Regions from separate parts of the Homo sapiens genome. Here region 2 is linked to region 1. Evidence: fine-mapped expression QTL. A gene starts in region 1. The other region holds a variant in brackets. All regions are shown on one strand. Distances are from middle to middle. Region 1 holds the start of ZNF558 (zinc finger protein 558). Region 2 holds the start of MUC16 (mucin 16, cell surface associated).

Region 1 (12,519 bases):
TCATTCTCACACACTGCTGGGGGTAACCCCTAGGGAAGGAAACGTGCTGATGTCAAGCAAACCTGCAAAAAACATTTGTTCTTTCCTAGAACCCACTTCTAGAAATCTATCTCAAAGGTACACAAATACTGAAAGACACGTGTAAGATGATTCGCTGTGGCACTTCATATAATCGCAGAGGATTGAAAACACCACAAGTGACCATCAGTAGGGGATTGGGTGAATAAACTATGTGATAGCTTTAAGGTTGGTGCAAAAGTGATTGCGGTTTTTGCCATTACTTTCGATGGCAAAACCTGCAATTACTTTTGCAGCAACTTAATAAATAACAAAGAAACATGTAGCCAGGAAAAAAAAACCCCAAACCAAAACCAAAACAAAGAACCCCTGAAAAGATTTCTAGGTATTCAGAGAGATTATCTCCAATAAATTTAAGTGAAAAAAAAATCAAGGTACAAAGCAATGTCATGTGTCCTTTTTATAAGACGAGAAAGCCTCCTTTCTCCAGATTTATAGAATAAAACGTAACTCCATAAAGCCAGCTTCTGGAGGTTTCCATGTGTGACCTCCATGACATGAACCCAAAAGATAAAAGGAGTGAAGGGTGTGAATGGGCAGGGATGGGGGCACTGGACATTCAGGGTGAGTTCGGGTTCCGTCAAAAAATCAAGTTGGAGGGAGTCTTTGGCTCTTGGGCCTCTGTGGTAGACAGATGATTAACTTCCTGCTCTCCCAAGAAAGGGGTCTGTGTTCTAATCCCCAGAACCTCTGGATCTACTCCCTTACATGGCAAAAGGGATTCTGCAGCTGTGAGGAAGGCAAGGATCCTGACATGGGGGATGATGCTGGGTGGGCCCACTGTGATTACAGGGGTCCTTATAAAAGGGAAACAGGAGGGTCAGTTCAAAGAAGGATGGGATGAGATGAGAGAAGAAGGGAGCGTGTGTGTAGCAGGGAGGAGATAACATACAGAGAGACTGGAAGATGCTGCCCTGCTGGTGTTGATGATGGAGGAACAAGCCACAGTCAGGGAAGGCTGGTGGCCTCTACAAGATGAAAAACGCAGGAAATGGGTTCTCCCCTAGAGCCTCTAGAGCAGTGGTCCCCAACCTTTCTGGTACCAGGGACTGGTTTCGTGGAAGACAATTTTTCCATGGAGCACGGGGCGGCAGTGGGGCTGGGCAGGGAATGGTTTCAGGATGATGTTTTATAAGCACATTACATTTATTCTGCACTTTATTTCTATTATATTACACAGTAATATATAATGAAATAATTATACGACTCACCATAATATAGAGTCAGTGGGAGCCCTGAGCTTGTTTTCCTGCAACTAGATGGTCCCATCTGGGGGTGATGGGAGACAGCAACAGATCATCAGGAATTAGATTCTCCTAAGGAGTGTGCAATCCAGATCCCTCACATGCAAAGTTCACAATAGGGTTTGGGCTCCTATGAGAATCGAATGCTGCCACTGATCGGCCAGGAGGTGGAGCTCAGGTGGTAATGCGAGCAATGAGGAGTGGCTGTAAATACAGATGAAGCTTCGCTCACCTGCCACTCACATCTTGCTGTGCAGCCCTGTTTATAAGCACTGGTCCGTGGCCCAGGGGCTGGGGACTCCTGCTCTAGAGGGAATGCAGGCCTTCCAGCTTATTGAGGATTTCTGACCTCCAGCAAGGCAAGAGGATAAATGTGTGTTGTTTTAAGTCCCTGAATTTGTGGTAGTTTGTTATAGCATCAATAGGAAACTAACATGCCTTTCACATCACACCTTCCCTTTGGGTGAGTTCAGCAGACCCAGGCAACTGCTGCAGAACTTCCCTACCCTCTACAGGGGGAAGTATCTCCTTTTTCCCCGTAACAGACCTAATGTGCAGGTAGGCACACAGTAGTTCCAGTCACTGAGCTGGGGAGTGAGGGGGGGTTGGCCTCCAGCCAGCTCACTGGGCCTCCAAGAAAAAAACAAGTAGAGAAGGTACCTGGGACATTTTCAGGCCCCAAGTCCCTATTCAAGGCTGTCTGGAAGCAGAAATTTCCCACTAGGACAGGAGGGGTCTCTTCAGTTTACAGATCCTGTGACACCTGCCCTGCCCTGGATACAGTGCTGGAGGATGGTCACAGCAGATGGGCCACTCTATGTCAGCTGCCCAACACAACTTCTGGTGATGATGGAAATGTTCTATAATTCTGCTCTAATACTTGAAATGTGACTAGTATGGCTGAGAAAATAAATTTTATTTTTTTTGGGAGCAATCATCTGATTCCTAAACTACCTCCAAACACCCCCTCTTTTGCCTCTTAAATGTCTTCCTTCTGAATCCTGAAGTCCTTGTTATCTGCATGCTTACACTACATGCAAATTGCATCACCCTCTGGCCCACAACTCTTTAGTGTCTTCCCACTGGCCTGAGAACAGAGTCTGAAGTGAGGCCTAGTATGGTTCTGCCTCCCTCTTGATCTTGGTCTTGGTCACACTTCTTTCCCTATTCTTTTTTTTTTTTTTTTTTTTTTTTGAGGAGTCTCACTCTTACACCCAGGCTGAATGCAGTGGTGCAATCTCTGCTCACTGCAACCTCAGCCTCCCAGGTTCAAGCAATTCTCTTGTCTCAGCCTCCCGAGCAGCTGGGACTACAGGTGTGCACCACCACACCCAGCTAATTTTCGTATTTTTAGTAGAGACGGGGTTTCACCATGTTGGCCAGGCTGGTCTTGAACTTCTGACATCAGGTGATCAGCCCACCTTGGTCTCCTAAAGTGCTGGGATTACAGGTGTGAGCCACTGCGCCCAGCTTCTTTCCCTGTTCTTGTCTCGGCTTCAGCCATCCCTGTGTTCCCAGTGCAGGGAGCGTGGCAGCCTCTCTCCTGCTGCAGGGCCTTTCCTTACACAGCTTCTTCGACGGCAGTGCTCTCTTGGACATAACCCTGTCCCCTCACTCTAGTCGAGCCCTATGACTAGCTACATCTGACCCCAACTTGGAGATGGAGCAGCAATTCCCTTTTTCAGGGGCCTGTGAACCCCAAGTGGGAAAATAAAGGAAAATCCTGAAGTTCCTTTAAGGGAAATTCCGAGCATCCAGCTAGCCCCAAAAGTAAATATGGAACTTGTTAAACAGGAAGGTAATAGTAACCTAAAACAACAGCCAAAGAAGTTAAGGCTCCAGAGATGTTCGCTTTCCCCATGGAAACTAAAGATAACATCTTAACATGCGTCCCTGAGTTGCCTTTCAGAGGCTGGGACTCCCACTGAGGACCCCACCAAATGGAGCTGCTGGCTCAGAGACCCCAGATAAGCGGGACATGAAGGCTGAGCTTCAGCGTTCTTTGTGCTAAGTTTCTTCTTGAGGGGCTTGGAGAAAGTCACTTCTCCCAGCCAGTTAACATTTTCCTACTGACTCTAAATTTTTAAACAAAGCTTCTTTTCTTTAACCAATTACAAATCAGAAAAATCTTTGAATCTACCTATGACAAGCTCCTGCTTCAAGACATCCTTGCCCTTTTAAGTCTAAACCAGTGTGTAACCTCCATGTATTGCTTTATGATTTTGCCTGTAGCTTCTGCTTTTCTGTAACTTACCATTGCCTTCAGAAATCCTTGCCTAGCCGGGCACGGTGGCTCATGTCTGTAATCCCAGCACTTTGGGAGGCCTAGGCAGGCGGATCACCTGAGGTCAGGAGTTTGAGGCCAACCTGGCTAACATGGTGAAACTCTGTCTCTACTCAAAATACAAAAAATTTGCCAGGTGTGGTGGTATGTGCCTGTAATCCTAGGGACTGGGGAGGCTGAGGCAGGAAAATCACTTGAACCTGGGAGGCAGACGTTGCAGTGAGCTGAGATCGTGCCATTGCACTCCAGCCTGGGTGACCAAGTGAGATTCTGTCTCATTAAAAAAAAAAAAAAGGCCGGGTGTGGTGGCTCATGCCTGTATCATCTCAGCACTTTGGGAGGCTGAGGCGGGTGGATCACGAAGTCAGGAGATTAAGACCAGCCGGGCCAACATGGTGAAACCCCGTCTCTACTGAAAATACAAAAATTAACCGGGCATGGTGGTAGGCGCCTGTAATCCCAGCTACTCAGGAGGCTGCGGCAGAACTGCTTGAACCCGGGAGGCCGGGGGTTGCAGTGAGCTGAGATTGCAACACAGTACTCCAGCCTGGGTAACAGAGTGAGACTCCATCTCAAAAAAAAAAAAATTCCTTGCCTAAAAGCCACTGGGGAGGCCAGGATTTGAACATTTAATGTCTGGTCCTCCTTGCTTAGTGCTGTGCAATAAAAGCCTTTCTATCTATCGTAGCAACCCTCAATATAGACATCTGGTTTCACTGCACCACCAGGTGAGCAGACCCCAGTTTGGTTCTGTAACAACTTAAGCTCTCAAGCTAAATATCCTTCCCAAGAAAGCTTCCCTGTTCCCTCTGATCAAGTTCACTAGTGCCAAGCTCCCACATCACTCCTGTCATTCATGGTTTAAAATTTATCTTCCCTGTTAGAAGGTAAACTTTATGTAGGACAGGGGCCATTTCAGGTCCTCCAGGGTCCCTGTGCATCTGACCTAGGACCTGACTCATGGAGGCGACCTGGTTTGCCAAGGATTGTCCCGGTTTGAACACTGGATGCCCTGTGCCCTAGCAAACCCCTTGGTCCTGAAAAAATGAGGATGGTTGGTCACCATTAACTGTGCACTCAAATAATATCTATTGCATGATAAGTAAACATTCCTTCAAGAATGCTGTAGGAAAGCTAGAATGGAAAAGGTGAACACACACACAATTAGTAGAAACCCCACAATTTAATACTAGATTACTTAACATGATTCTCTGCAATATGAATCACCATACTGTTATTTCAGAGAAGTTTTAAGAAACAAAGTTAATTCCTATTAGGAGGTGATATCGTTGGCTCTGTGTCCCCCCACCCAAATCTCATCTCGAGTTGTAATAATCCCTATGTGTCAGAGGAGGGTCCTGGTAGGAGGTGACTGAATCATGGGGGCGGACTTCCCCCTTGCTGTTCTCCTGATAGTAAGTTCCCACAAGATCTGATGGTTTAGAAGTTTGGCGTTTATGTCTTCTCTCTCTCTCCTGCTGCCATGTAAGACGTGCCTTGCTTTCCCTTTGCTTTCTGCCATGATCGTAAGTTTCCTGAGGCCTCCCCCGCCATGCAGAACTGAGTCAATTAAACTTCTTTCCTTTGTAAGTCACTCAGTCTCAGGGAGTTATTTATAGCAGTGTGAAAACTCTCAGGTAGTTCTTTATAGCAGTGTGAAAAAGGACTAATACAGGAGGCAAGGTGCAGAGGACAATCTTTTTGGAAACCAGTTCCCTACCCTTCAATCTATAAGTTGTTGCTTAATATTCTTCCAAATGTTTTCAAATCTCATTAGGAAAAAAAAAATCCCATTACTCAAAACACATCTGGTCGCCGGTCAATTTAATTTTAAATTTGTTACTAATAAATCATCCTTTTTACAAATGCCCTTATATTTTGAAGTTTGGTGGAGGGCCAATATGCCTTTAGAAATCAAATCAACAGCTGGGTGCGGTGGCTCTTGCCTGTAATCCCAGCACTTTGGGAGGCTGAGGTGGGCGGACCACTTGAGGTCAGGAGTTAAAGACCAGCCTGGCCAACATGGCAAAAACCTGTCTCTACTAAAAATACAAACAAAATTAGCTGGGCGTGGTGGCACTTGCCTGTAGTCCCAGCTACTCAGGAAACTGAGGCAGGAGATTTGCTTGAGTCTGGGAGGTGGAGGTTGACATGAGCCAAGATCGCGCCACTGCACTCCAACCTGGCCAACAGAGTGAGACTTGGTCTCAAGAAAAAAAAAAAAAGTCAAATCAAACAGGCCTGAAAAATGTTGCTAAGTAGTCCTGCTAGTTGTTAGTGGGAAGACTTGTAACACTACATATACATGTAAATATTTTCTATACTTATATAAAATTCAGAAACTTTTAGCATTACGGCATACCAGAAAATCTGTCTTTAGCTACAGTTACACATCTTTACGTTATTTGTATGTTTGTTTTGTGGATACTTATTTGCATGTAACTGTATTTACTTATTTACACACATGTAACCATAAACACCTCTGTCTTTTTACCTTGAACTTTCCTTAAGATACCTTCACTCTTAGTGACTTCAATGTGGTTACAACCCCAGCACAGGAAAAGCCCACGAGGAGTTCTTCTACACAGCAGAGCCTGCTGAAACCTTGTTGTAGGTTCCACACTGTACTCACCTGGTCACCCAAAAACCCACAACAACAGGTGGACCTTGTGGCAGGCTTCAACACGAATCTGAGCTTGAATGATGCTTTTCTCATCTGAAAAAAAAAAAAAGACACAAAGATTTCTTTCGAGGCTTTGTATAGGTTGTACAGTTGTTGGATACGGCTGCCGGAAACACCATCCCATTCACTTTTTTTGGGTACTCAATGATTAAATGTGTAATAAGGGCCCAGCCTGTGGGCCATGACTGGCTTTACCTGATTCCCATCTGGCCATCTGCTCCGTAAGAGGGGAGAAAGCAGCTTAACGCTGTGTGCATTTGACTTGCTCAACTTACTACGCTGGAGAGAGATTCTATGGTGACTCCACAGGCTTTAAAAATATCTTGTCACTTAGAGGCCCTATTAAGTGACTAAACTGAATTTTTAACAATTTATGTAGTTTATTCAGAACTGCAGAGATTTTTTTTTTAAGGCCCTAGAGCAGGGTTTCCCAACCTGGCACTACTGATAATTCTTTGTTGTGGGGGACTGTCCTGTACAACGTAGGATCTTTAAGAGCAAGCAGCGTCCCTCTTCCCCGGCCTCCACCCTCTAGGTGACAGTAGCAGCCTCCCCTCCCCACAATTTGTGAAAACCACAGTCGTCTCCAGCTACAGCCAAAAGTCCCCTGGGGTGCGGAATCGCCCCGGGTGAGGGCGACTGGGGTTCCCTGAGGAGGCAACAGCGGCGCGGGGCCCCGACCCAGGAGCAAGCAGCAGCTTCGTGCTGACCTAAGCTCACAGCCCGAGGCCTCATGAACCGAAACACGGCTCCCTGGAGGGACGCAGGGCCCGTGGCTGGCGGTGTCCGCGGCCCACGTCGCCCCCTGGACTCGGACCCGAGCCCCCGCCAGTCGCTCACCGAGCCCGGCCCCTCCCGCGGGGCCAAAAGCGCCGACTCGCGGGGACGGAGGGACTCGCTCCCCGCTGCCCCACGCGCGGCCCCTCCCACGGTACCGCCCCGCGCTTCCGCTTCCGGTCTGGGGAGAGGTGCGCTGCACGTCCCCTTCCGGCTCGCGCGGGCAGCCTCGCAGAGTCGAGCGTGTTGGGGGTTCGGCGCTTAGGCGACAGGCGCGGCGGGCGGGAGCGGCGGCCGCGAACCCCAGCCTTGGGCAGAGGTGTTCTAGTTTGCTTAGTGGGCACAAAGTTGGGCCCTGGCCTGGGGCAGTAGCGGGGGTAAGGTTGGCCCTGGGGGCGGGGCCAGGCTGTGAGCCGCACGAGGCCTGGGGGCGGGGCTGGTTGTGGGCGGAGATCAGTTCCGGGGCGGGGCTGAAGGCGGGGAACCGGCTGAGGCCGTACCAGGCCTGGAGGGCGAGGCTGATTGGGCAGAGACCAGTTCCAGGGTCGGGGCTGTGGGTGGGGCCCAGTTCTCGGGGCGGATGGTATAAGGCTTCTAGAGCGGGGATGACTGAGCAGAGACCAGTTACAGGGGTGGAGACCTCCATTTCCGGGGCGGGGCTGAGCGGGAACCAGGCTGTGGTTGTGACAGCCCTGGAGGTTGGGGCTGGCTGTGGGCGGAGATAAGCTCCGGGCCGGGCGGAGGGCGGGGACTAGGCTGTGGGTGTACCGGTCTTGGAGGGCAGTGGTGATTGGCAGAGAGCAGTTCTAGGGGCGGAGCTATGGGGTGGCAGCAAGCCTGGGGGCGGGGCTGACTGTGGGCGGAGACCAGTTCTGGGGGCGGGACTGTGGGCTGCACCAGGCCTGGGGAGGGGGCAGTGGGTGGAGACCAGTTCCAGGGGCAGGGATCTGGGTATGAATAAAAGGGTGTATGATGTGGGTGGGTTGGGATAGGCCCAGGAGCCAGGATTGTGGGAGATCAGATTCAGGGGTAGGGCCTTCCTTGGATCCCTAGATTGTTGATACAGTTACTGCCCCATGTTCATACAACCCAATAGGATCAGATTATGTATGCACATTTGTCTATAACTTGCTTTCCCAAGGCAGAACATAGTGATTTAACACTAAGAGTTTAGGGGAGCAGGAGAGGACTGGGTCATAGATACACATATAGGAAAACTTAAGAATGGTACAAAGTCAGTCAAATATTCTCCCACCACGGTCTTTCAGTTCTTTTGCTCAGAGGCAAAAATAATTTTCTCCTCTATCTTTCCAGATATAGTGTGGACATGTATGTGTGTGTATGTGTGTATGCCGTAGTCATATTCATGGAATAAATGCTATTACCTCCCCCCCAACAAGTCTCTGTTTTATACACCATGGATATAGACTGAACAAAATAGGTAAACGTCCTTGCCCTCAGAGAACGTGCATTTTAGTTGTGAGTTGGGCAGGAGAAATGGACAGTGAATGTGATAAATAGAATACATGGTGGGTTGGTGCGTTAGATACCACTAAGTGCTGGTTGGACCTGGTGGCTTACGCTTGTAATCCCAACACTTTGGGAGGCCGAGGCAGGCAGATCACCTGAGGTCAGGAGTTCGAGACCAGCCTGCCAACATGGTGAAACCCCGTCTCTACTAAAAATACAAAATTAGCCGGGCGTGGTGGCGGATGCCTTGTAATCCCAGGTACTTGGGAGGCTGAGGCAGGAGAATAGCTTGAACTCGGGAGGTGGAGGTTGAAGTGAGCCGAGATTGCAGCCGGTGCACTCCAGCCCGGGTGACGAGCAAGACTCCATCTCAAAAAACAAAACAAAACAAAAACCAAAAACCATAAACAAAAAAAGATACTGGTAAGTGCAAAGGGAAAAAATTTTATGTAAGAGAGTGGTAACATTTAAAATCAGCCAGGAAGAAATACTTTCAATGAATGATATTGTTTCATGCACCCGTCCTTTCAGAAAAAAATAGTTAGATCTCTGCTTCCCAAAAATATCCATTTTCAGGTGGCTGAAGGAAGTTTAAGCAAAAATGAACAAGTTCAAAATTCAATATACTAGGAAAGTTCACTGTGGAAAGACTGTTCTCTTCAACAAATTGTGCTGGGACAACTAGATGCCAATATACAAAAGAATGAAATTGGGCTGGGCGTGGTGGCTCACGCCTGTAACCCCAGCACTTTGGGAGGCTGAGGCAGGCAGATCACGAGGTCAAGATATCGAGACCATCCTGGCTAACATGGTGAAACCCCGTCTCTACTAAAAATACCAAAATTAGCTGGGCGTGGTGGCGGGCGCCTATAGTCCCAGCTACTCGGGAGACTGAGGCAGAAGAATCGTTTGAACCCAGGAGGTGGAGATTGCAGTGAGCCGAGATCACCCCACTGCACTCCAGCCTGAGAACAGAGCGAGACTCCATCAAAAAAAAAAAACAAACCAAAACCAAAAAAAAACAAAAAAAAAACCAACCAACCAAGAAACAAACAAAAAACAGAGAATGAAATTGGACCTCTACTTCACACCATGTACAAAAGTGAGCTCAAAATAGATCATAGACCTAAAGGTAAGAGCTAAAACTATAAACTTCTTGGAAGAAAACATAGGTGTCAAACTTTGTGATCTTGGGTTAGGCAATTGTTTCTTAGATATGACATCAAAAACAGGTGGCGAAAGAAAAAATATATAAATTGGACTTAACATTAAAAAACATTGATGCTTCAAAGGACACCATCAAGAAAAAAGACAAACATGGACTGGGTGAAGACATTTACAAATGATTTATCTGATACATGACTTGTATTCAAAATATATAAAGGCTTGCGACTCAGCAATAAAAAGATACCCAATTAAAAGTGAACAAAGAGTTTTTTTTTTTTTTTCTTTTTGAGGTGGAGTCTCCTTCTGTCACCTAGGCTGGAGTGCTGTGGCACCATTTTGGCTCACTGCATCCTCTGCCTCCTGGATTCAAGCGATTCTCCTGCCTCAGCCTCCCAAGTAGCTGGGACCACAGGCGTTCACCACCACGCCTGGCTAATTTTTGTATTTTTAGCAGAGAGAGGGTTTTGCCATGTTGGCCAGGCTGGTCTTGAACTCCTGACCTCAAGTGATCTGCCCACCTTGGCCTCCCTAAGTGCTGGGATTACAGGTGTGAGCCACTGCACCCAGCCTGAAAAATGAACAAAGAGTTCGAATCGTCATTTCTACAAAGAAGATACACAAATGGCAAATATATACATGAAAAGATGCTCGGCCCCATTAATCATTAGGGAAGTTAATATCAAAACTTCAATAAAATACTACTTCACACCCATTGGGATAATTAAAATTAAAAAGATAGCCAATAACAAAGATTGGCAAAGACAAGGAGAAATTGGAATTCTTATACATTGCTGTCAGGATTGTAAAATGGTGCACCCACTTTGCAAAATAGTTTGGCAGTTCCTCAAAAAGTCATAGAGTTGCCACGTGACCCAGCAATTTTATTTCCAGTATATGCCCAAGAGAAATGAAAACATGTGTTCACATGACAGCTTGTACATGAATGTTCATAGCAGCATTATACATAATAGCCCAAAATTTTGTATGTCCCAAATATCAGTCAACTGATGAATGGATAAATAAAATGTGGTATATCCACACAACGGATTATTATTCATCCATTAAACAGAATACATATTCCATGGATGAACCTTGAAAACATTACGGTAAGTAAAAGAAGCCACTCATAAAAAACCCACATTTTGTATAATTCAATTTAAATAAAATTTCCAGAATAAGAAAATCCAAAGAGACAATAGATTAGTGGCAAATGTTGGGGAAAAGGGAAATGAGGGGAAGTGGGTAATGGTATGGATTTCATTTTAGATGAAAATAAGATTAGATAGTGGTGACGATTGCGCAACTGTGTGAATGTACTAAAAACCATTTTACACAAAAGTGTAAAAACTGTACACTTTAAAAGGTTGAATATTATGGTAGCTCAATAAAGTTTTTATTTAAAAAATGTAGAATTATACACATAAATTCTTCAGTTAGGCATAATAAGAGAATAAAAGTGGAAAAATAAAATACTACATAAATATGAGTGCTTCTTCCTCAAAATAATAGAAGAAAAGTGGAAAAAGTAAAATACTACAAAAATGTGAGTTCTTCTCTTCTTCCTCTTCCTCCTCCTCCTTTCTTCCTTCTTCCTTACTCCTCCCCTTCCTCCTCCTCCTTGTCCTCCTCCTTCTTCTTTCTTCTTTCCTCCTCCTCCTTCTTCTCTTCCTTTTCCTCCTCCTCCCCCCCTCTCCTCCTCCTTCTTTCTTCTTTTTTCTTTTTTTTTGGAGACAGGATCTTGCTTTGTCACCCAGGCTGGAGTGCAGTGGTGCAAACATGGCTCATTGCAGCCTCGACCTCCTGGGCTCAAGTCATTCTCCCTCCTCAGCTTCCCGAGTAGCTGGGACTGCAGGCGTGCACCACCACGCCCAGCTAGTTTTTGTATTTTTTATAGAGACAGGGACTCGCCACACCACAGAGGCTAGTCTCGAACTCCTGAGCGCAAGCAATCCCTTTGCCTTGGCTGCCCAAAGTGCTGGGATTTTAGGCATGACCCCATCGTATCCAGCTTAAGTGTATCTTAATTTTCCACACCATCACATTATTAAATGGCAAAACAAACTGGGGATAAATAATTGTAAAAATCTATGACATGTGGGCTCATATCATTATTACATAAAGAATATTTTGGATAAATAAGCAAAAGATGAACAAGCCAGTAAAAACATCATCAAAGACAAAGGCTATGAACCACACACTCCTTTACAAATACATACAACTGCCCAATACTCTAATTAGCAAAGAGGCATAAATTAAAATAATGGCATTATGTTTGTGCCTCTCAAGTAATGCAAAACATTTTAAATGGCCAGTTTGTCAAGACATGAAGAAATGAATGACCTCGCCCTCTGCTAGCAGCATTGATAAGTACCAGTTTCTCAGCAGGTACTTGGTAACATATACCCAAAGCTGTACGAATGTGCATATTTATCAACCCAGCAATTTTACAGTGATCTAAATCAGAGAAATGTTTGAACCTTGTTAAAAAGGATTGATCATCTACCTCCTATTTAATATGACAGAAGATTAGTAACAATGGCAAAATAAGTACTGGTGTAGCCGTATGAAATGACATTCATGGGCCTTAAAACAACAATGTCAATGTACATTTAGTTATATTAAATTACAATCGGGATATATTGTTAGATGTGAGAAGCTGGCTGCAGAATGAAGTCGGCAGTGTGTATCCATGTTGTAACCCACAAAGTCTAGGAATATAAAATTCCAGGGCTCGACAACCACTTAATGCCTGGACCCTTTCTGCCTCGAATGGGGGTGGCTAGAAACTTCTCTGGCTGGAGGGCAGAAGGCAGAGT
Region 2 (12,519 bases), 240 kb after region 1:
TCCTTTTTAGTTTTTTAAATTTTTTAGAGACAGGATCTGGCTCTGTCACCCAGGCTGGAGTGCAGTGGCATGATCTCAGCTCACTGCAACCTCTGCTTCCTGGGCTCAAGTCACCCTCCCACCGCAGCCTCCTGAGTAGCTGGGACTACAAGGGTGCACCACCACACCTGGCTAATTTTTGTATTTTTTGTAGAGACAGGGTTTCGCCATGTTGGCCAGGCTAGTCTTGAACTCTTGAGCTAAAGTGATCCGCCTGCCTTGGCCTCCCAAAGTGTGGAATTACAGGCGTGAGTCACCGTGCCTGGCTGTCTGCCTTTACTTTCTTTCTGTCCTTTTTTTTTTTTTTTTTTTTTTTGCTTTGAGACAGAGTCTCAATCTGTTGCCCAAGCTGGAGTGCAGCCGAACAATCATACCTCACTGTAGCCTCAACCTCCTGGACCCAAATGATCCTCCGACCTCAGCCTCCTGAGTAGCTGGGACTACAGGCACGTAACATCATGCCTGGCTAATTTTTATTTTATTTTTAGTAGAGAAGGTTTTGCTGTATTGCCCAGGCTGTTCTCAAACTACTGAGCTCAAGTGATCCTCCCATCTTGGCCTCCCAAAATGTTGGGACTGCAGGCCTGGCTAATTAAAAAAAAATTTTTTTGCAGAGATGGGGGTCTCACAATGTTGCCCAGGCTCGTCCTGAACTCCTGGGCTCAAGCAATTCTCCCACCTCGGCATCCCAAAGTACTGGGATTACAGGCAAGAGCCACTGCGCCTGGCCTCTCTTTGCATTTTTCTTTTCTTTTCTTCCTTTCTTTCCTCTCCCTCTCTCTCTCTCTCTCTCTCCCTTCTCTTTTTTGAGATCAAGTCTCACTCTGTTGCCCAGGCTGGAGTGCAGTGGCGTGATCTTGGCTCATTGCAACCTCCACCTCCCAGGTTCAAGCGATTATTGTGCCTCAGCAACCCAAGTAGCTGGGACTATAGGCGTGAGCCACCACACCTGGCTAATTTTTTTTTTTGTATTTTTAATACAGATGAGGTTTCACCATGTTGGCCAGGCTGGTCTCGAACTCCTGACCTCAGGTGATCTGCCCATCTCGGCCTCCCAAAGTGCCGGGATTACAGGCATAAGCCACCTAGCCCGGCCTGCATTTTTCAAGACTACAATAAACTGTCATTAACTATCGTCACCCTGCTATACAATAGATGTCTTGAATTTTTTCCTCCCATCTAACTGTAATTATGTATCTTTTTACCACCTCTCCTCATCCATCTTCCTCAACACCCTTCCCAGCCTCTGGTAACCACCATGGTAACCTGCAGACACCTTCATCTCCAACTTCCGGCCTGCAGAACGGAGAGATGATACATTTCTGTTGTTGAGGCCTCCAGTCTATGGTACTTGGTTATATCAGCCTCAGAAAACTAATGCAACCTCCAAATCCCTCATCGCTCCCTCTGAGTGTCTTGTCTACTTTTTCTCCAGTGTCCTGTAAGTCCTCAAAGCCTGCAGGGGCACATAGCAGGGGCTCAATGTACAAATGCCCATTCACTGACTACATGATCCTCCCAGGAGAGGTAGGAGAAACATGAGCCAGTTAAAGAAGAGAGACTGGGGTCGGGTGCGATGGCTCATGCCTGTAATCCCAGCACTTTGGGAAGATGAAGCAGGAGGATTGCTTGAGTCCAGGAGTTCAGGACCAGCTTGGGCAACATAGGGAGACCCTTTTTCTCTACTTTTATTTATTTTTATTTTTTATTTTTTTGGAGACGAAGTCTTGCTCCTGTCCCCCAGGCTGGGGTGCGATGGCATGATCTCGGCTCAATGCAACCTCCGCCTCCTGGGTTCAAGCGATTCTCTTGCCTCTGCTTCCTGAGTAGCTGGGATTACAGGCGCCTGCCACCACACCCAGCTAATTTTTGTATTTTTAGAGACGGGGTTTCACCATGTTGGCCAGGCTGGTCTCGAACTCCTGACCTCAGGTGATCCGCCCACCTCAGCCTTCCAAAGTGCTGGGATTACAGGCATGAGCCACCGCGCCCAGCCTCCTTTCTCTATTTTTATAAAAATTCTTGGGCTGGGCGCAGTGGCTCATGCCTGTAATCCCAGCATTTTGGGAGGCTGAGGTGGGCAGATCATGAGATCAGGAGATCAAGACCATCCTGGCTAACATGGTGAAACCCCGTCTCTACTAAAAAATACAAAAACAAATTAGCCGGGCATGACGGCGGGCGCCTGTAGTCCCAGCTACTTGGGAGGCTGAGGCAGGAGAATGGCGTGAACCCGGGAGGCAGAGCTTGCAGTGAGCCGAGTTCGAGCCACTGCACTCCACTCTGTCTCAAAAACAACCACCACCACCAAAAAAAAAAAAAAAAAAAATTCTTGGCCAGGTGTGGTGGCTTACGCCTGTAATCCCAACACTTTGGCAGGCTGAGGCAGGCGGATCACCTGAGATCAGGAGTTTGAAACCAGCCTGACCAACATAGTGAAAACCCATCTCTACTAAAAATACAAAATTAGCTGGGCGTGGTGGCACACGCCTGTAATCCCAGCTACTAGGGAAGCTGAGGCAGGAGAATTGCTTGAATCAGGAAGGCGGAGGTTACAGTGAGCCGAGATGGCACCATTGCACTCCCGCCTGGGCAACAAGAGCAAAACTCCGTCTCGAAAAAAAATAAATAAAATAAATAAAATAAAATAAGAATTATTAAAAAAAAAAAAGAGAGAGAGAGAAAGAGAGAAGAGATTGGGAACTGGCCCCACGTCTCCTGCTACAGGACCTTGGGAAAATCCTGAACCCTTTGAACCTCAGTTTGCTCCTCCATAAAACGGGGCCATCAGACCATCAGCCAATATCTCTAAGCTCCCCGTGGGATTGTGAATCCTACATGTCCCCCACCCCAGGCTTGCATGAAAAATAAGGTTTCTCTTGGGTGCCACACAGAGAGGATCCCTTCTGTGTCCCTCAAGCCATCTGTGACCGTCCCACTTCATAAAAGCAAAGGTCACTTGCTCATTGAAACTTCCTCTGTGCCAGGCAAGAGCTGCATCGCCCCAACAGGCCCCTCAAGCAAGATGCTATTATCATTATCATGATGCCCTTTTTGCAGATGGGGAAAAGTGAGGCTCAGAAAGACCAAGTCCGCAGGCCCCATCTCTACTGAAAATACAAAAACATTAGCGCCCGTAATCCCAGCTACTCCGGAGGCTGAGGCAGGAGAATTGCTGAGATCGCGCCATTGCACTCCAGCCTGGGCGACAAGACCAAAACTCTGTCTCAAAAAAAAAAAGAAAAAGAAAGTAAAGGGGGAGAAGGAAAGGAAGAGGGTGGTTGGGAACACAGAAGAGGTGACAATTGGGTAGGGACTCAAGCTGGAAAGGGGGACAAAGTGGAAGCTGGGTGCAGTGGCTCATGCCTGTAATCCCAGCACTTTGGGAGGCCAAGGCGGGAGGATCACTTGTGCCTGGGAGTTCTAGACCAACCTGGCCAACACAGGGAGACCTCGTCTCTGCAAAATATTTAAAAACAATTAGCTGAGCTAGGTGGCACACATCTGTGGTCCCAGCTACTTGGGAGGCTGAATTGGGAGAAGCACTTGAGTTTGGAGGTCTAGGCTGCTGTGAGCCGTGATCATGCCACCATACTCCAGCCTGGGCAACAGAGCAAGATCCTGTCAAAAAAAGGAAGGAAGGAGTGGGGTTGACATGCAAGGCCATTTGAGGATGGGCTGGGACATTGTGGACTCATTTCCCTCCTCCCCAGAGGACCAGAAGGAGCAAGAGATCCCCTTACCTGTGGGCAGCAGGTATCTCAGCATTAGTAACACCAGGGCCCACCGCCGGCCTCCAGGGGCACCCTGCCACAGGCCAGCCATTCACGGCTTCAGGAAGACTTGGGGGCTGCTCTTTGCCCTCGTTCCAGCCCCCCAGCCAAGCCCAGAGACATGTCCAGCAGCTCCAGGCGGCCAGGTGCCTAAGATCTGGCGGGTATCAAATGTGCCCAGTCAGCCTAATCCCTGCGAGGCTGGGCGGGGCTGGGAAGGATCCCCTCGCCTATTCCCAGGCCCTGATTGGCTCCCTGGGCCCTTGGTTCTGCCTGTCTGGGCTCCCAGGAAGACAGGGCTCCATGGGCATTGAGGGGAGCGGGAGTTTCAGCTGCCAGGCTCAGCTGCGGGTGTCAGGAAAAGTCTCCCTAGAATGTTCCCCAGACCCAGAGCTGCACTGCGACTTTCATGGGCCACAATCACTTTTGCAATTTACCCATTACTTTTTTTTTTTTTTTTGAAAGGAAGTCCTATTGTGTTGCCCAGGCTGGAATGCAGTGGTGCCATCTTGTCTCACAGCAAACTCCGCCTCCCGGTTCAAGCGATTCTTGTACCTCAGCCTCCCGAGTAGCTAGGACTACAGGCACACACCACCATGCCCAGCTAATTTTTGTATTTTTTAGTAGAGACAGGGTTTCACCATGTTGGTCAGGCTGGTCTCGAACTCCCTATCTCAAGTGATCCGCCAGCCTTGGCCTCACAAAGTGCTGAGATTACAGGCGTGAGCCACAGCGCCCAGCCTATACTTACATTCCTCCCTCCCCAGCTTTATTGAAGGATGATTGGCAAATAAAACATTAAATATCTTATAATTTGTAATAATTTTTGAGCAAAGAGGCTCCCATTTTCACTTTGCACTGGACCCTGCAAATCACGCCTCTGGTCCTGCTGCAAGCGGTAGTCTCTGCTATTCCACAGCAGCCTCATGTTCTCTCTCTGTGACGCTCTGAATTGTATCCCCCTCAAATTCACAAGTTGAAGCCTTTACTTCCGATGTGACTGCATTCAGCAACAGTTTTCAGGCTGGGCGCAGTGGCTCATGCCTGTAATCCCAGCACTTTGGGAGGCCGAGGAGGGTGGATCACCTGAGGTCGGGAGTTCGAGACCAACCTGACCAACATGGAGAAACCCCATCTCTACTAAAAATACAAAAATCAGCTGGGTGTGGTGGTGGGCACCTGTAATCCCAGCTACTCAGGAGGATTCAAGCGATTCTTCTGCCTCAGCCTCCCAAGTAGCTGGGATTACAGGTGCACGCCACTACACCTGGGTAATTTTTTTTTTTTTTAGATGGAGTCTTGCTCTGTCGCCAGGCTGGAGTGCACTGGTGCGATAGCTCACTGCAACCTCCACCTCCCAGGCTCAAGTGATCCTCCCACCTCAGTCTCCCGAGTAGCTGGGTTACAGGTGTGCACCACCACATCTGGCTAATTTTTGTATTTTTAGTAGAGACAGGGTTTCACCATGTTGCCCAGTCTGGTCTCGAACTCCTGAGCTCAAGCAATCCTCCCGACTCTACTTCCCAATGTGCTGGGATTATAGGCATGAGCCACTGCACTTGGTCATCTAAGTCTTATTGCTTATCTCCAGCACCTATCAACTTAGAATATGCTTGCTAAATGAATAAATATGTGAATTAAAGAATAAGTGGGCTGGGCATGGTGGCTCACACTTGTAATCCCAGCACTTTGGGAGGCTGGGTCAGGTGGATCATGAGGTCAGGAGTTCAAGACCAGCCTGACCAACATGGTGAAACCCTGTCTGTACTAAAAATACAAAAAATTAGCTGGGCGTGGTAGTGGGCACCTGTAATCCCAGCTACTTGGGAGGCTGTGGCAGAGAATTGCCTGCATCAGGGAGGTGGAGGTTGCAGTGAGCCGAGATCGTGCCACTGCATTCCAGCCTGGGAGACAGAGTGAGTCCGTCTCAAAAAAAAAAAAAAAATGAAAATAGAGTTGGCTTTGAGTGGAGAGAAATCAAGGAGGACCACCCAGAGGAGGTATTCAAAACCTTCCAGTTAAAATTTGCCCACCAGCTTTGCCATATAATGTGGAATCAGAGAGTGTGATGTCTCCAGCTTTGTTCATTTTGCTTGAGATGGCTTTGGCTATTTGGGGTCTCTATCAATGGATAAATGGATAAAGAAAATGTGTGTATATATATACACACACACACACACACACACACACACACACACACACACGA[T/TG]GAATACTATACAGCCTTAAAGAAGAAGGAAATACTGTCATTTTTGACCACACGGACGAACCTGGGGGACATTGTGCGAAGTGAAATAAGCCAGGCACAGTGAGACAAATACTGTGCGATTTCGCTTAACTGTGGTATCTGAAAAGATCAAATTGGTCGGGCGAGGTGGCTCACGCCTGTAATCCCAGCACTTCGCGAGGCCAAGGCGGGAGGATCACTTGAGGTCGGGAGTTTGAGACCAGCCTGGCCAACATGGCGAAACCCCGTCTCTATGAAAATTACAAAAAAAAAAAATTAGCTGGGTGTGTTATCGTACCTGTGATCCCAGTTACTTGGGAGGCTGAGGCATGAGAATTGCTTGAACTGGGAGACAGAGGTTGCAGTGAGCCATGATCACGCCACTGCACTCCAGCCTGGTGAGAGAGCAAGACTACATCTCAAAAATAAATAAGTAAAATAAAAAGGTTAAACTCATGGAATTAGAGAGTAGAATGATGGTTACCAGGGCTGGGGAAGTGGGAAGACTGAAGAGAGTTAGTTGGTCAAAGGACACATGTTTTAGTTAGCAGGAATAAGTTCTAGTGATCTATTGTAACTATAGGTCAAAATAATGTATTACATATTTCTTTTTTTTTTTTTTGAGACAGAGTCTCGCTCTGTCACCCAGGCTGAAGTGCAGTGGCCCGATCACAGTTCACTGAAACCTCCGCCTCGCAGGTTCAAGCGATTCTCCCGCCTCAGCCTGCTGAGTAGCTGGGATTACAGGTACACGCCACTACACCCAGCTAATTTTTGGATTTTTAGTAGAGACGGGGGTTTCACCATGTTGGTCAGGCTGGTCTTGAACTCCTGACCTCAGGTGATCCACCTGCCTCGGCCTCCCAAAGTGCTGGGATTACAGGTATGAGCCACCATGCCCGGCCCACATATTTGAAAATTGCTAAAAAGAGTTTATTTTACATAGCGACGTCGCTATTAAGAAAAAAAAAAGTTTATTTTAAATGCTCTTACCACACACACACACACACACACACACACACACACACACACACACGATAAGTAGGTGAGTTGATGGCTATGTTAATTAGCTTCTTAAATAATTCCACAAGATATACATACAAATATCAAAATATCAGATTGTACCCCATAAATAGATACAATTATTATTTGTCATTAAACTTTTTAAATAAAGAAAATTTAAAAATAAACAATTGTCCACCAGGTTCCTCTTTCTTTTTCTTTTCTTTTCCATTTTTTTTTTTTTTTTTTTTTTTTGAGACAGGGTCTCACTCTGTTCCTCAGGCTGGAGTGCAGTGGTGCAATCATAGCTCTCTGCAGCCTCAAACTCTTGGGCCCAAGCAATCCACCTGCCTCAGTCTCCTGAGTAACTGGGACTACAGGCATGTACCACCGTGCCCAGCTGATTTATACTTTTTTGTTTTGTAGAGACTGGGTCTGGATATGTTGCCCAGGGTTTTTGTTTTTTTTTATGTGGGGGTGGGTGGGTGGGGGGTGAGGACCGAGCCTTGCTCTGACACCCAGGTTTGAGTATAGTGGTGTGATCTTGGCTCACTGCAACCTCCGCCTCCCGGGTTCAAGTAATTTTCATGCCTAGCCTCCCAAGTAGCTGGGACTACAGGTGCTCGCCACCACACCTGGCTAATTTTTTTTTTTGTATTTCTAATAGAGACAAGGTTTCACCATGTTGGCCAGGCTGGTCTCAAACTCCTGAGTTCAGGTGATCTGCCTGCCTTAGCCTCCCAGAGTATTGGGATTACAGGTGTGAGTTCGGCTCCAGGCTGGATCTTGAATTCCTGGGCTCAAGCCATCCTTCTGCCTCAGCCTCCCAGAATGCTGGGATTACAAAGCTTGAGACAGCACCTTGGCCACCAGGCTCCTCTTTTCTTTTTTCTTTTTTTTTTTTTTTGAGACGGAGTCTCGCTGTGTCACCCAGGCTAGAGTGCAGTGGTGCGATCTCGGCTCACCGCAACCTCTGTCTCCTGGGTTCAAGCGATTCTCCTGCCTCAGCCACCTGAGTAGCTGGGACTATAGCCGCACACCACCAAGCCTGGCTAATTTTTGTATTGTTAGTAGAGACGGGGTTTCACCATGTTGGGCAGGCTGGTCTTGAACTCCTGACCTCGTGGTCTGCCCACCTTGGCCTCTCAAAGTGCTGGGATTACAGATGTGAGGCACTGCTCCTGGCCAGGTTCCTCTTTTCAAAGGCAGCTCCCGGGGGCACGGCTGACTTGTGTCTGGTAACTTTTTTTTTTTTTAAGGAAAACCATCTAGTTTTTTGGGAAAACCAGACTCAGAGCTCAGAGGATCTGAGCAGAGATTTAGGCTCCTGGGTCCTCCAGCTCCTTGAACCCACGGGGAATCCAGCAGCGGTTGCTCCCTTCCCCCCTAAGGAATGCAGGAACCCTGCCCAGAAGTGGCATTAGTAACTGAGCTCTCCCTTTGTCCCTAAGCTGCCATTCCATTGTCTTCCCCCAGTGATCACGGAAAAGGTCCTGGAGGGTGGAGGAGAGGTGCTCAGAATGGAGGAGGAGGAGGGGTGTTGGGACTGCTCAGCTCCTGCTGAAGTAAACACCTGCTCTGTGTTCCATAAGCTGGGACCCCAGGGTCAGGCCAAAGGGAAATGGATACCCCGGGTTTGGGTGGTCGCCACAAATTCTAATGCATGTACTACCTACATCATAGCCGCCCCCCCACCAAATAAGCCCAGTGATTAAGCGTACAGTTTCTGGAGCCTGGTGCCAGAGTTTGAAACCTCCTTTTTTTTTTTTTTTGGAGACAAGGTCTTACTCTGTCGCCCAGGCTGGAGTGCAGTGGCACGATCTCGGCTCACTGCAACCTCCACCTCCCAGGTTCAAGCGATTCTCCTGCCTCAGCCTCCCTAGTAGCTGGGATTACAGGCACCCCCCACTGTGCCCACCTAATTTTTGTATTTTTAGTAGAGACGGGGTTTTACCATGTTGGCCAGGCTGGTCTTGAACTTCTGACCTCAGGTGATCCACCCGCCTCAGCCTCCCAAAGTGCTAGGATTACAGGCTTCAACCACCACGCCCGGCCTAATTTTTTTTTTTTTTTTTTTTGAGACAGTTTCGCTCTTGTCACCCAGGTTAGACTGCAATGGCACAGTCTCGGCTCACCTCAAACTCCACCTCCCAGATTCAAGCGATTCTCCTGCCTCAGCCTCCGGAGTAGCTGGGATTACAGGCGTGCACCACGACGCCCAGATAATTTTTGTATTTTTAGTAGAGACGGGGTTTCACCATGTTGGTCAGACTGGTCTTGAACTCCCGACCTCAGGTGACCAGCCCTCCTTGGCCTCCCAAAGTGCTGGGATTACAGGCGTGAGCCACCACACCCGGCCCTCTTTAAAGTTCTAAAATGCTTCTAACCTTTAAGCTGTCCTTGTTCATTCCTGGGCTTAGGCCAAACTAACTTTGGGAAGGAATTCAGCTGATGGTTTGACTCTGAAACAAAACTGATAACAGCCCTTTCCCTAAAAGACCCACTTCTTGCCTGGGAACCAGTCTGCCTTTGCAGGACTAACAAATTAGCTACAAGATTAGAAATTACAGTTTAGGAGTCATGCAGCCTCTGGGTCCAAGAGTCTGAACGTCCCCAGATTGCTCCCAGAGGTAGCATCACTATTGTAAAACCTAAAATCAGTGCTTGAGATAGTTTGCAGACCCTGCACTCGATGGATCAGCTGACACCACCCAGACCATCAGACCAGACCAGTCAAGATCGCACCATTGCACTCCAGCCTGGGCAACAAGAGTGAAACCCCATCTCAGAAAAAAAAAAAAAAAAAAAAAAAAAAAAAAAGAAGGAAAAGAAAGAAACTCTACACTTCCTGTCCTTATTCCTGGGAATTTATTTAACAATTTAATTTCTCACCATACCCGAGGGAAGGCACAGCCTATTGCAAAGTCATTTTGCACGAAAGCAAACTGGGGCTCAGAGAACCAGGCCTCCAGTCAGTGCTGGTGTCATGGACAACCAGGCTGAGGGCCCATGGCAGAACCTGTTTTATGACATGGCTGCTCTCCCTGAAGCCAGTGAGGCACAAAGCCTAGGGGAGTGGACAAGGGACAGGAAGGTGTGGGTTTCCATCCTGCTGTGTGACCTTGGGGAAGTCACCTAACCTCTCTGAGCCTCATTTTTCTTTCTTTTTTCTTATTTATTTATTTTGAGACAGAGTCTCGCTCTGTCGCCCAGGCCAGAGTGCAGTGGCGCAATCTCAGCTCACTGCAAGCTCCGTCTCCCAGGTTCAAGTGATTCTCCTGCCTCAGCCTCCCGAGTAGCTGGGATTACAAGCGCGTGCCACCACGCCTGGCTAATTTTTGTATTTTTAATACAGATGGGGTTTCTCCATATTGGTCAGGATGGTCTCGAACTCCTGACCTCGTGATTTGCCCACCTCAGCTTCCCAAAGTGCTGGGATTACAGGCATGAGCCACCGTGCCCAGCCTTCTTGTTTTTAGTTTTTTTTTTTTTAATGAAAAAAAAAGTATTATTATGGCCGGGCACGGTGGCTCACGCCCGTAATCCCAGCACTTTGGGAGGCCAAGGTGGGTGGATCACCTGAGGTTAGGAGTTGGAGACCAGCCTGACCAACATGGCAAAACCTCATCTCTACTATAAATACAAAAATTAGCTGGGCATGGTGTCGCATGTGTGTAATCCCACCTACTTGGGAGGCTGAGGCAGGAGAATCGCTTGAACCCGGGAGGCAGAGGTTGCAGTGAGCTGAGATTGTGCCACTGCACCCCAGCCTGGGCAACAGAGAGAGACTCTGTCTCAAAAACAAAACAAAACAAAACAAAAACCAGAAGAGATGTGTGGTGCATGTAAAATACACATGAGATGAGATTTTGAAGACTGATTTTGAAAAAAAGAATGTAAAATGTCTTGGCCATAACTTTCATCAGAATTACTTGATTTGTATTTAAATATCATGGCATTTAGTTTATGGGGGATTTTTTTGTTTTAATTTATCTTTTTTCTTTTTTTCCAGCAAATGCTTAACATCCAAAGTTTATGGTTATATGTTTGAGATGGGATCTCATTCTGTCGCCCAGGCTGGGGTGCAGTGGCTCACTGCAGCCTCTACCTCCTGGGTTCAAGCCATCCTCCCACCTCAGCCTCCCAAGTAGCTGGGACTATATAGGTATGTGCCATCACGTTTGACTAATTTTTAAATTTTTTTGTAGAAGCCGGGTGCAGTGGCAAATGCCTGTAATCCCAGCACTTTGGGAGGCCGAGGCGGGCGGATCACCTGAGGTCAGGAGTTTGAGACCAGCCTGGCCGACATGGTGAAACTCCGTCTCTACCAAAAATACAAAATTAGCTGGGGGTGGTGGCGCGCGCCTGTAATCCCAGCTACTTGGGAGGCTGAGACAGGAAAATCTCTTGAACCTGGGAGACAGAGATTGCAATGAGCCAAGATTGTGCCACTGCACTCCAGCCTGGACGACAAAGTGAGACTCTGTCTAAAAAAAAAAAAAAAAAAAAGTTTTCTGTAGACACCGAATCTCACTATATATGTTCCCCAGGATGAACTTGAAGTCCTGGGCTCAAGTGATCCTCCCATCTCAGCCTCCCAAAGTGCTGGGATTACAGGTGTGAGCCACCGCGCCCGACCCATAGATGCTTGTTAAGGGAAAATCCCAGCACTTTAGGAGGCCAAGGAGGGTGGATCACCTGAAGTCAGGAGTTCGAGACCAGCCTGGCCAATATGGTGAAACCCCATCTCTACAAAAAATACAAAAATTAGCTGGGCTTTTTGGCTGGTGCTTGCAATCCTTGAGAGGCTGAGGCAGGAGAATCACTTGCCTGTAGTCTTAGCTACTTGGGAGGCTGAGGTGGGAGGATTTGCTTGAACCCAGGAGTTCAAGGCTGCAGTCAGCTATGATAGCGCCACTGTACTTCAACCTGGGCAACAGAGGGAGACCTGGTCCCTTAAAAAAAAAAAGACATTTCTCAAGAGGGCCTTCTACCTTCCTTCCTTCCCTTTGAAAAACCTAGGAGGGAGTTACAGATGTTATTGTTCACCAGCTGTATCCTAAGGAATTCAGGTTCGTCCTAAAGGAAAATGCCTTTTCCCCTTTCCTCACCTCGTTTTAGATACTCTCTGGAGGATTTTCCTCAGATTCTCGCTGAAACCTGACTCTCTCCTGGTAATGCAAATATTCCTGGGCTCTCTATGGGAAAGCTGCGGCCCTGTGCCTGACCCCAGGGCACTGGGAGAGAAAGTCTTTCCGGGCCGCAAGGTGTCATAGGAAAGGGGTCCCAATCCAAACCCCAAGAGAGGGCTCTTGGATCTCAGGCAAGTCTGTAAAGTGAAAGCAAGTTTTTAGGAAAGTAAAGGAATAAAAGAATGGCTACTCCATAGACAGAGCAGCCCCAAGGGCTGCTGGTTGCCCATTTTTATGGTTATTTCTTGATAATATGCTAAAGAAGGGGAGGATTATTCATGCCTCACCT

The links. PIP is the estimated chance that this variant, and not a neighbour inherited with it, causes the effect. A credible set is the group of variants that fine-mapping cannot tell apart.
Region 2: its variant is the best candidate, but not a certain one, in a credible set for the expression of ZNF558 in unexposed skin (GTEx, PIP 0.60).

What each region holds. Positions count from the first base shown.
Region 1 is chr19:8,825,080-8,837,598 of GRCh38, forward strand. ZNF558 (zinc finger protein 558) reads right to left here and starts at 7,225. Exons shown (of 10, transcript NM_144693.3): 1 at 7,130-7,225; 2 at 6,239-6,322; 3 at 1-29. MBD3L1 (methyl-CpG binding domain protein 3 like 1) reads left to right here and starts at 7,298. Exons shown (of 3, transcript NM_001393532.1): 1 at 7,298-7,443. RefSeq lists silencers at 7,005-7,274, 7,775-8,034.
Region 2 is chr19:9,061,778-9,074,296 of GRCh38, forward strand. MUC16 (mucin 16, cell surface associated) reads right to left here and starts at 3,974. Exons shown (of 94, transcript NM_001414686.1): 1 at 3,783-3,974. The coding sequence starts at 3,864. RefSeq lists enhancers at 7,597-8,531, 8,532-9,465, 12,324-12,519. The variant T/TG (reference allele first, on the strand shown) is at 6,019.